Linked DNA regions of Homo sapiens. The protein of the gene in region 1 purifies or fractionates together with the protein of each later gene. This does not show direct contact. Each region holds a gene or a part of one and is shown on either strand. Other genes may lie near its edges.

The links. Proteins that work in one complex are often made in the same cells at the same time.
Region 2: the proteins of NLRP12 (region 1) and HSF2 purify together in Homo sapiens (affinity purification with a luminescence readout; one large-scale study listed by IntAct). This does not show direct contact.

What each region holds. Positions count from the first base shown.
Region 1 is NC_000019.10:53,820,826-53,826,555, forward strand, and holds the start of NLRP12 (NACHT, LRR and PYD domains-containing protein 12), read right to left. Parts: upstream 3,490-5,730; 5' UTR 3,350-3,489; coding exon 3,061-3,349; intron 3,053-3,060; exon of another isoform or gene 2,956-3,052; intron 1-2,955. UniProt on the Homo sapiens protein: Plays an essential role as an potent mitigator of inflammation. Primarily expressed in dendritic cells and macrophages, inhibits both canonical and non-canonical NF-kappa-B and ERK activation pathways.
Region 2 is NC_000006.12:122,415,883-122,420,151, reverse strand, and holds part of HSF2 (heat shock factor protein 2), read right to left. Parts: intron 3,932-4,269; coding exon 3,856-3,931; intron 985-3,855; coding exon 923-984; intron 18-922; coding exon 1-17. UniProt on the Homo sapiens protein: DNA-binding protein that specifically binds heat shock promoter elements (HSE) and activates transcription. In higher eukaryotes, HSF is unable to bind to the HSE unless the cells are heat shocked.

The sequences.
Region 1 (5,730 bases):
TACAGGCGCCCATCACTGCGCCCAGCTAATTTTTTGTAAAAAATAAAAATATTTTTAAAAAAACAATTCCACAGCTCAAGTGCCATCTCTGCCACTTCAGCAATAGCCTATATTTGCTGAGCACTTGCTACCTGCTCTGAATTGTGTTAAGCACTTTGCATGTATTATCTCTTGAGCTTATGCCTGAGTATAAATCATATTTTTTCTTTTTTTTTTTTTTTTTTTTTTGAGACAGAGTCTTACTCTGTCACCCAGGCTGGAGTGCAGTGGCTTAATCTTCGCTCACTGCAACCTCCACCGCCTGGGTTCAAGTGATTCTCCTGTCTCAGCCTCTAGATTAGCAGGGATTACTGGCGCCCGCCACCACACCCGGCTAATTTTTTTGTATTTTTAGTAGAGACAGGGTTTCACCATGTTGGCCAGGCTGGTCTCGAACTCCTGACCTCAGGTGATCCATCCACCTCAATCTCCCAAAGTGCTGGGATTACAGGCGTGAGCCACCGCACCCAGCTCATTGTGATTATTTTATGAGATAGAAGATATAATAAAAGAAATCATGTTGGCTGGGCACGGTGGCTCACACCTGTAATCACAGCACTTTGGGAGGCCGAGACGGCTGGATCATGAGGTCAGGAGATCGAGACCATCCTGGCTAACATAGGGAAACCCCGTCTCTATTAAAAATACAAAAAATTAGCCAGGCATGGTGGCGGGCACCTGCAGTCCCAGCTACTCGGGAGGCTGAGGCAGGAGAATGGCGTGAACCCAGGAGGTAGAGCTTGCAGTGAGCTGAGATTGCGCCACTGCACTCCAGCCTGGGCGACAGAGCAAGACTCTGTTTCAACAACAACAACAAAAAGAAATCCAAGAGTGCTAAGGAGGCACAGAAGTGGGGTTTCTGAGCCAGCCAGAGTGGTGGGAGCGAGGAATCAGAAGGAGTGGGGGAAGAGGAGTAAATACTTTACTTTAGAGAAGGTAGTGGCTTCAAGGTTTCAGTAAGTAATACTTTTCCAGGCAAAGAAGATGGAGAATATTCCAGGCAGAACACAGCATGAACAAAGACCAAAGGGATGAAATTAGAATTCTGTACACAGTCATAAAAAAGAACAAAATCATGTTCTTTGCAGTAACATGGACGCAGCTGGAGGCCATTATCCAAAGCAAACTAATGCAGGAATAGAAAACCAAAGACTGCATGTTCTCACTTATAAGTGGAAGCTAAACATTGGGTTCTCATGGACAGAAAGATGGGAAGAAGAGACACTGGGGACTCGTGGCGGGGAGAAATCTCACCATTGGGTACTATTACTATGTTCAAGTACCTGCATGATAGGATCAATCTTACTCTGAATCTCAGCATCACTCAATATACCCATGTAACAAACCTGCACATGTACCCCTTGAATCTAAAAGTTGAAATTTTTATATAGATATAGATGTGTGTGTACGTAAATTAGAATTCCAGATCTCCCAGGCTCAGGGATTAGTATGAAAGAAAAGGGAATTGGTGGCCAGGCAGTGGTCATTCATGCCTGTAATCCCAGCACTTTGGGAGGCTAAGGTGGAAGCTCGCTTGAGCCCAGGAGTTCAAGACCAGCCCGGGCAACATAAGGACACCTCATCTTGGCCGGGCACAGTGGCTTATGCCCGTAATCCCAGCACTTTGGGAGGCTGAGGTGGGTGGATCACGAGGTCAGAAGTTCAAGACCAGCCTGGCCAAGATAGTGAAACCCCGTCTCTACAAAAAATACAAATACAAAAAATTAGCCAGGCATGGTGGCAGGTACCTGTAATCTCAGCTACTCGGGATGCTGAGGCAGAAAATTGCTTGAACCTGGGAGACGGAGGTTGCAGTGAGCGGAGATTGCGCCACTGCACTCCAGCCTGGGCAACAGAGCGAGACTCAGTCTTAAAAAAAAAAAAAAAAAAGGATACCTCATCTCTTTCTTAATTTATTTTTGAGATGGGGTTTCACTCTGTTACCCAGCCTGGAGTACAGTGGTGCAATCTCAACTCACTGCAATCTCCACCTCTCAGGTTCAAGCGATTCTCCTGCCTCAGCCTCCCATGTAGCTGGGACTATAAGCGTGTGCCACCACGCCTGGCTAATTTTTGTATTTTTAGTAGAGACAGGGTTTTGCTATGTTGGCCAGACTGATCTCGAATTCCTGACCTCAGGTGACCCACCCGCCTTGGCCTCCCAAAGTGCTGGGATTATAGGTGTGAGCCACTGCACCTGGCTACCTCATCTCTTAAAATATATATACACACACACATATACACACACATATATATACACATATATACACATATATATACGTGTGTGTATATATATATAAATTCCAGATCTCCCAGGCTCAGGGATTTTATATATATGTATTTTAAATATTTATTTTAATAATATATGTATTAAATATTTAATATATAATATTTATTATTTATATATATTTATATAATATACCATATTTATATAATATAGTATATTTATATAATAAATATATACTATATTTATATATAATATATACCATATTTAATATATATTTAATAATATAATTATATACATATTTTAAATATATATTTAAAATATATGTTTTAAATATATATATTTAAAATATATGTTTTAAATATATATTTTAAATATATATTTAAAATATATATTTTAAAATATATTTATTTAAAATATATATTTAAAACATATATTTTAAATATATATATTTTAAAAAAATATATTTTAAATATTTGAGGCAAGGTCTCGTTCTGTCACCTAGGCTGGGGTGCAGTGGCAGGATCATAGCTCACCGCAGCCTCGACCTTCTGGTCTCAAGTGATCCTCCCACCTCAGCCTCCTGAGAAGCTGGGATCACAGACGTATACCACCACACCTGGCTAATTTTTTTTATTTTTGGTAGAGACAGAGCCTCACTATGTTGTCCAGACTGGTCTTGAACTCCTCACCTCAAGTGATCTGCCCTCTTCAGCCTCCCAAAGTGCTGAGATTACAGGTATGAGTCACTGGACCCGGCTGGCATTCTAGCCTTGCCTGTCCCGCCACCTCCTTACCCCTCACCAGGTCCTCTCTCTGTCCTCTCTCCCACAGGTCCTTCCTGTTTATCCGCTCAAAGGTGCTGAGAGCCAACCTCCAGGCCTCCTCTGGCCCGAAGTGGGTGATGAGCAGCTGGGCCATTTCCAGGGGACCGGCCTTCTCCATGCTTCCCCAGGGGATCTTGCCTTCTCCCAGCTCTGTCGCGGTCCCCAGGTATAACTTGAACTTCTTCAGTTCCACAGCCTCGAGTTCTTCCAAGTAGGTGGACAGGCGACAGAGGCCGTCCCTGCCTGCGGTTCGTAGCATGGGGGTGCCGTGAGCCCCAAAGGAGAGGACCTGGAGGCTGAGATGCTCCTATGCACGGGACACAGGGCGACCCCAGCACACCTTCCATTGCATCATTCACAGGCAGCGGGCGGAGAGGCTGAGCCAGTGGTTGGAGGAGAGAGCAAGGGAGGAAAGACCTTTTGCTGAAATAATGCTTTCTCACTCTTCAGTTCCCTCCTGCCCTGCCCCACTCACCAATGGCTGTTCTGGGTGGAGAAGAGGAAGTTCGGGGGGAGATTAAGAAATCCGAGGAGCCACTTGGCTGATGAAAAAGATTTTCACTTCTGCTGTCTCTTCCTGGATCTCTTGACAAAACAGTCACTCTCTTTCCGCTTTCCTCTTGTTTTCCTCATTTCACTAGTGTGTGTGGTAGAGTGTATTATCAAAACTGCGACTGCGCCTCTTCCAGGGAGAATTTTTTTTTTTTTGAGACAGAGTCTTACTCTGTGGCCCTGGCTCTGCGATCTTGGCTCACCGCAACCTCTGCCTCCCAGGTTCAAGCGATTCTCCCACCTCAGCTTCCCTTGAGTAGCTGGGATTACAGGCGCCGGACACCACACCCAGCTAATTTTTGTGGTTTTAGAAGAGACAGGGTTTCACCATGTTGGTCAGGCTGGTCTCGAACTCCTGACCTCAGGTGATCCACCCGCCTCAGCCTTCCAAAGTGCTAGGATTACAGGTGTGAGCCACCGTCCCTGGCTTTTTTTTTTTTTTTTTTCTTTGAGTCAGAGTCTCACTCTGCCACCCAGGCTAGAGTTCACTGGCGTGATCTCAGCTCACTGCAACCTCCGCCTCCCAGGTTCCAGCGATTCTCCCACCTCAGCCTCTCAAGTAGCTGGGACCACAGACATGCGCCACCATGCCCAGCTAAGTTTTTGTAGTTTTGGTAGAGACAAGGTCTTCTTATGTTGCCCAGGCTGGCCTTGAACTCCTGAGCTCAAACGATCCGCCCACCTCAGCCTTCCAAAGTGCTGGGATTACAGGCATGAGCCACTGAGCCCAGCCTCAGGGAGAATTATTAAGGACCTCACGTAGGTCTGCTATTTTTTTTCTGTTCTCTCAGTCACAAGAGTGGCATGAGAGGGACTTTGCGGTAGGCAGGATGATGGTCCCCAAAGATATTCATGTCCTAATGGCCAGAACCTGTGACATTTCACCCTACATAGCAAAAGAGACTTAGCATATGTGACCAAATGAAGGCACTTCAGATGGGGACATTATCCTGGTTATCTGGGCAGGACCCATGGAATCACAAGAGTCTTTTTTTTGAGACAGAGTCTTGCTCTGTTGCCCAGGCTGGAGTGCAGTGGCACGAACTCGGATCACTGCAAGCTCCGCCTCCCAGGTTCACACCATTCTCCTGCCTCAGCCTTCCGTATAGCTGGGACTACAGGTGCCCGCCAACACGCCTGGCTAATTCTCTTTTTTTTGTATTTTTAGTAGAGATGGGGTTTCACCATGTTAGCCAGGATGGTCTTGATCTCCTGACTTCGTGATCCACCTGCCTCAGCCTCCCAAAGTGCTGGGATTACAGGCGTGAGCCACCGCACCCAGCCACAAGAGTCTTTATAAGAAGAAGACAGGAGGGTTAGTGTAAGAGGAAGATGTGACTGGGTGCAATGGCTCATGCCTGTAATCCTAGCACTTGGGGAGGCCAAGGCAGGTAGATCACCTGAGGCCAGGAGTTTCACACCAGACTGGTCAACACAGTGAGGCCCCATCTCTACAAAATATGTGTTAGCAGAATTTATGAATTCTGATGGAAGAGCAAGTTTATAATTCCCTCTGTCTCCTGCATCATGCCAACTTTGTTTCATGCTCCTAATCAATTAAGACCCCTCAGACACACACACACACACACACACACACACACACACACACACACACACACAAAAGCCTTCATAGCCAGGCGCAGTGGCTCACACCTGTAATCCCAGCACTTTGGGAGACTGAGGCGGGCAGATCACCTGAGGTCAGGAGTTTGAGACCAGCCTGGCCAACATGGTGAAACCCCGTCTCTACTAAAAATACAAAAATTAGCCGGGCTTGGTGGCACGCACCTGTAATCCCAGCTACTTGGGAGGCTGAGGCAGGAGAATCACTTGAACCCGGGAAGCAGAGGTTGCAGTGAGCCGAGACTGCGCCACTGCACTCCAGCCTGGGCAACAGAGCGAGACTCTGTCTCAAAAAAAGAAAAAAAAAATTAGCTGGGGTTTGGTGGCGGGTGCCTGTAGTCCCAGCTACTCAGGAGGCTGGGGCAGGAAAATCACTTGAACTCAGGAGGCGGAGGTTGCAATGAGCCAAGATCCCGCCATTGCACTCCAGCCTGGGTGACAGAGTAAGACTCCGTCTCAAAACAA
Region 2 (4,269 bases), on another chromosome or scaffold:
TGTTTAGAAGTAGAGGCCTGAAAACCAGAAGAATATGCAGTTCAGTGAAGCAAACATACAATGAATTTAAACTCCCTCTATTAACTTACCCAAACACACACACATGCACACTCACTTAATAATGAATAAAAAATTTCAGTAACAATAAATAAACTTAAAAATGATTACATCTTAGGAACAGAAACTGCTGGATGAGAATATCTAGGACTTTCAGTTCTCCACTTTTCTACACTCTTTTTGTTATAATAAGCTATTCTCTCCAGTTATACTTCATTGCTTACCGAACCACACAACTCTATGAACTGTATTTATATAGAAAAAAATAGATAATATCATAAGAACTAATTAGTGGAAGTAGTTAAGGCCATAAAGCTCTGATCATAATCAAGTTTTTCCCAAATCTTAGTGTTACAGATCATTTTTTCCTTCCAACTATTCCTTTTGTCCATTATTCTTCTAATGTTTTAGCTGTGACAATAGTAGCTACTGACATTTACAGGTATCACAACCCATGGCTGAGATACAGATTTAAAAAGACTATGAGTGGCTTAAACTAAGAGAGGTCAAGTAAAACAAATTTTCATTTTTTTTTTAACATATGGCCTCTTTTTAAAAATTTCCTTCACTCAGGCCTTCTAATGCTACTTTAATAATGTGAATGAAAAGTGAATATTTTGTATTAACTGTATGTATGTCTATAAAGTGACCATTTAGGCTACCCTTATCTCTCACAAACATCAGCAGAATGATAAAACTAAAAAATAATACTACTCTAGAGATTTTAAGAGTATAATTTAACAAAGGAGAATTGTTCTTTTTGGACAACAAGCACATACTCAGCAAGTGTAGGCTACTCATGGTTAAACACTAAAAAGTGTGACTGCCTATATACAGGACATAATACTTTATCATAAAAACTTACCTTTTACGTTTTAAACTCACAAGTTGGTTATTTTGAACCAATGTAACAATAAACTGGACAATCTGAAAAAAATATAAACAAAAATTATTTCATTATACTGTTAATTCTTTTGTCTCTATTACCAAGTCTTATAAAACAAATTCATATAATAATTTGTCCTCTAAGTCTCATAATTTCTCACATATTAACACTTGAAATCCAGACGCACCGTAGAACCACCGTCTAAAGAAACATACCAGCTTCCAGGCAGTTTATTTGTTTTGGTGATAAGTACCAAACTTGCCTGGCTATAGATCCCAACTTTTTTACTTCAAGTACTTTGAAGATTACACTACGGTGCAAAAGAGAAAACTGGTGTTTGATAGGCAACATTTTTCTTATACCAGGTAACAGAGGCAAAATAAACCGTCAGTTCCTTCAGAATAATCATGAAATTTTCGAGTTAGAAAAAGGTGATGGGCCAGGCGTGGTGGCTCATGCCTGTAATCCCAACACTTTGGGAAGCCTAGGTAGGAGGATTGCTTCAGCCCAGGAGTCGGAGACCAGCCTGGGCAACATCGTGATGCTCCATTTCTAAACAAACAAACTCTGCTTGCAACCAAAGAAAAAAAAGAAAAAGATAAAAGTTTATTGTCTGATTCTATAAAGATTAATGTTGAGACCTATCTGTCAAAACTTCCTACTGACAAGGGAAGCTAATCTTTAATATTTAATTAAATTTAGAGAGAAAATTGTGAAGACACACAAACAAGCTTTCATATCTTATAGTAGTGTTTCTTAAAGTGTGGCCCATAATACCAGGAACACTAGCTTAGGAACTTTGGATATGTTAAATTCTCAATCCTACTACAGAACTGCTGAATCTGAAATTCGGATCATGGGATCCAGTATGTTTAGAAAACCCTTTAGTGTAGACTGGATACTGATGTGAGTATAAGAACTACTGGCTTAGAGTATGTCTTGAAATTACATTGCCAACTTCCTAAAGGTGCTATAAAAGGTGAGGATCATATGGTAAACTATAAAAAGTAGTATATCACTGAGAAGCTATGAATAAAAGCCAAAATTGATTGGAGCACTATTTAGACTCTGTGCAGAAAGTGTGCTTATAAGCTTTGTGAAGTTACATGATTAAATAGAGTATTATCAATTAAAAATATCTATTGTACAGGTTCTAACAGTGAGCATTTCCTTACAAAAAAGGCTACTAAATGGTCTGCCTTATAATCAATATCAATTTTTCAATGGAAAAAAATATAGACATTTTAACTGAAGAGGTTCATAGTATTAGAGTCTATGAAAAGGAGGGTAGACACTAAATTGCTTATTCAAGAGAAAATGTTAACAGCTAGTGAAAAGACAATATGTAAGCTTAAAGATATCTATGATACAATTCGACTTCAGTTTTTTTAATTAATAAATGTTATGGGAATATTCTAAAAACTTCAGGTTGAATTTATAAGAACATCAATCACTGGCTAAATTAAATTTATTCTACATCTCAGTTCTCTGTTGACACTTCTGGATCACATTACACAGGGATTTTTATCTGAAGAAGATAAGGCGTCTAACACTTACAGCATGTAACTTCTGTACCTGTTAAGTCCTATAACTGGACCATCACACATATTATTCTCAATTAATCCATGGCTGAGAGTAAATTCCAGGAGCAGAGTAAAAATTATTGGTTGTCGTCATGCATTATATAAACACCACTCACCAAAGCACAGAGATTCAAACTCAAATTTTAGCAGACAGAATGTTAGCATTCATGAAAAACTGAAATGTCACATAGCTATTTTATCAACTATTCTTGCTTTCAGGAAAAAAAAAATCTACACATTATAGAGTGTTGTAAGCTAATATATTACCAAAACACTGTTTCTGAAAAGTATTAACAGACTGTTTCCATAAAGTACAGGTTAAGGTACATCTATTGTTTTAAGTCAACTATTCTTAACCAGGCTGCACATTAGAGTTGCCTATGAAAGTTTTAAAAATACATGTACTTGGACTAAACACTTAGAACTGAATTCTACTACATTCAACCTTCACTTGCACACTTTAAAAAAAAAAAAAAACACAGTAAATCTATGTTGACTAGGCTACAGGCTGCAACTGCTACTCATCTCTGCTTTAAAGCCTTCTCCATTAGACCCTGATCCTGTCAGTCACAACCCTATTTTTAGTTCAAGGGCCTTCTAAGCAGGAGCAATCAGAAGCTCCCCCTCAAAAAACCTGTTGCTTAAACTCAGAGTCTAGTTTACTCATGAGCAAAAAATAGCTGCCTTAATTACTATGTTTCATCTCTTATTAGCAAATGAAAGCTGATATGCAAAGATTAAATCACAAGGACACAATGAAACGGAGGGATTCCAACTCCTCTATTAAATTTTCAGCTCAGATACTAAAATCTAAAATTCATTTTACAACACTATGTTAACTGCTTTTCTCCACAGACTAATAACAGCATACATTGAGAAATCATTTTCTGAACTCATAATTTGGTCAACTGATTTGAAAATATTTGTCATTTATCTTCTGAGACCTTAACTATGCCTTTTATAATAAAAACCAACAAAAAAAACCAGTAAGGCTATGTTTTCTAATTTTAAAAGAAATTGGTAGTGTATTCATTATGCTCATAAAAATAAAGTATTTCAAAATTGTTATATTAGGCAAAAGATCATTTACTAAAAGCTACTGAGACATTATCTGCGAGTATGGAATAACCATCTTTAGCTAGTGAGAAATTTTTTATTAAAAATGTGTAACACTTGGCTTAATTTCATTTCATTTTTTACTTCTATCTGTGCATCCAATATGTAAGAAACTAAGATCAATCACAGACACTCAATAAAGACCTTTTTGGGTCACAAACAGTACTCATTAAACAAATGCAAATTATGGTCCTGGGGAAAAGAGCTTCTTACCTTTCGAATAACTTGTTGCTGTTGTGCATGCTTTGCTCGTAATTCTGACACCTCCTTCCAAAGGGACTCATTCTCACTATGTTATAATTTATTAAGCAACAAAACAAAAAAAAAATCAATCAAAAAACCAGACCATAGTATCTTTAATTAAGAATACCAGACAACTGAACTACACTTGTTTTTACTATATGTATTTATGAGACCAAGAAAACTTTGGTTCAATTACATAGGAATGACAACTACCTTGACACAACTCCTGAATCATTCTTTTTTTAAAAAAAAGGTGTAGCTTTGCTCTGTCGCCCAGGCTGAAGTGCAGTGGTACGATCTCGGCTCATTGCAACCTTCACCTCCAGGGTTCAAGCAATTCTCGTGCCTCAGCTTCCTAAGTAGCTGGGATTACAGGCATGTGCC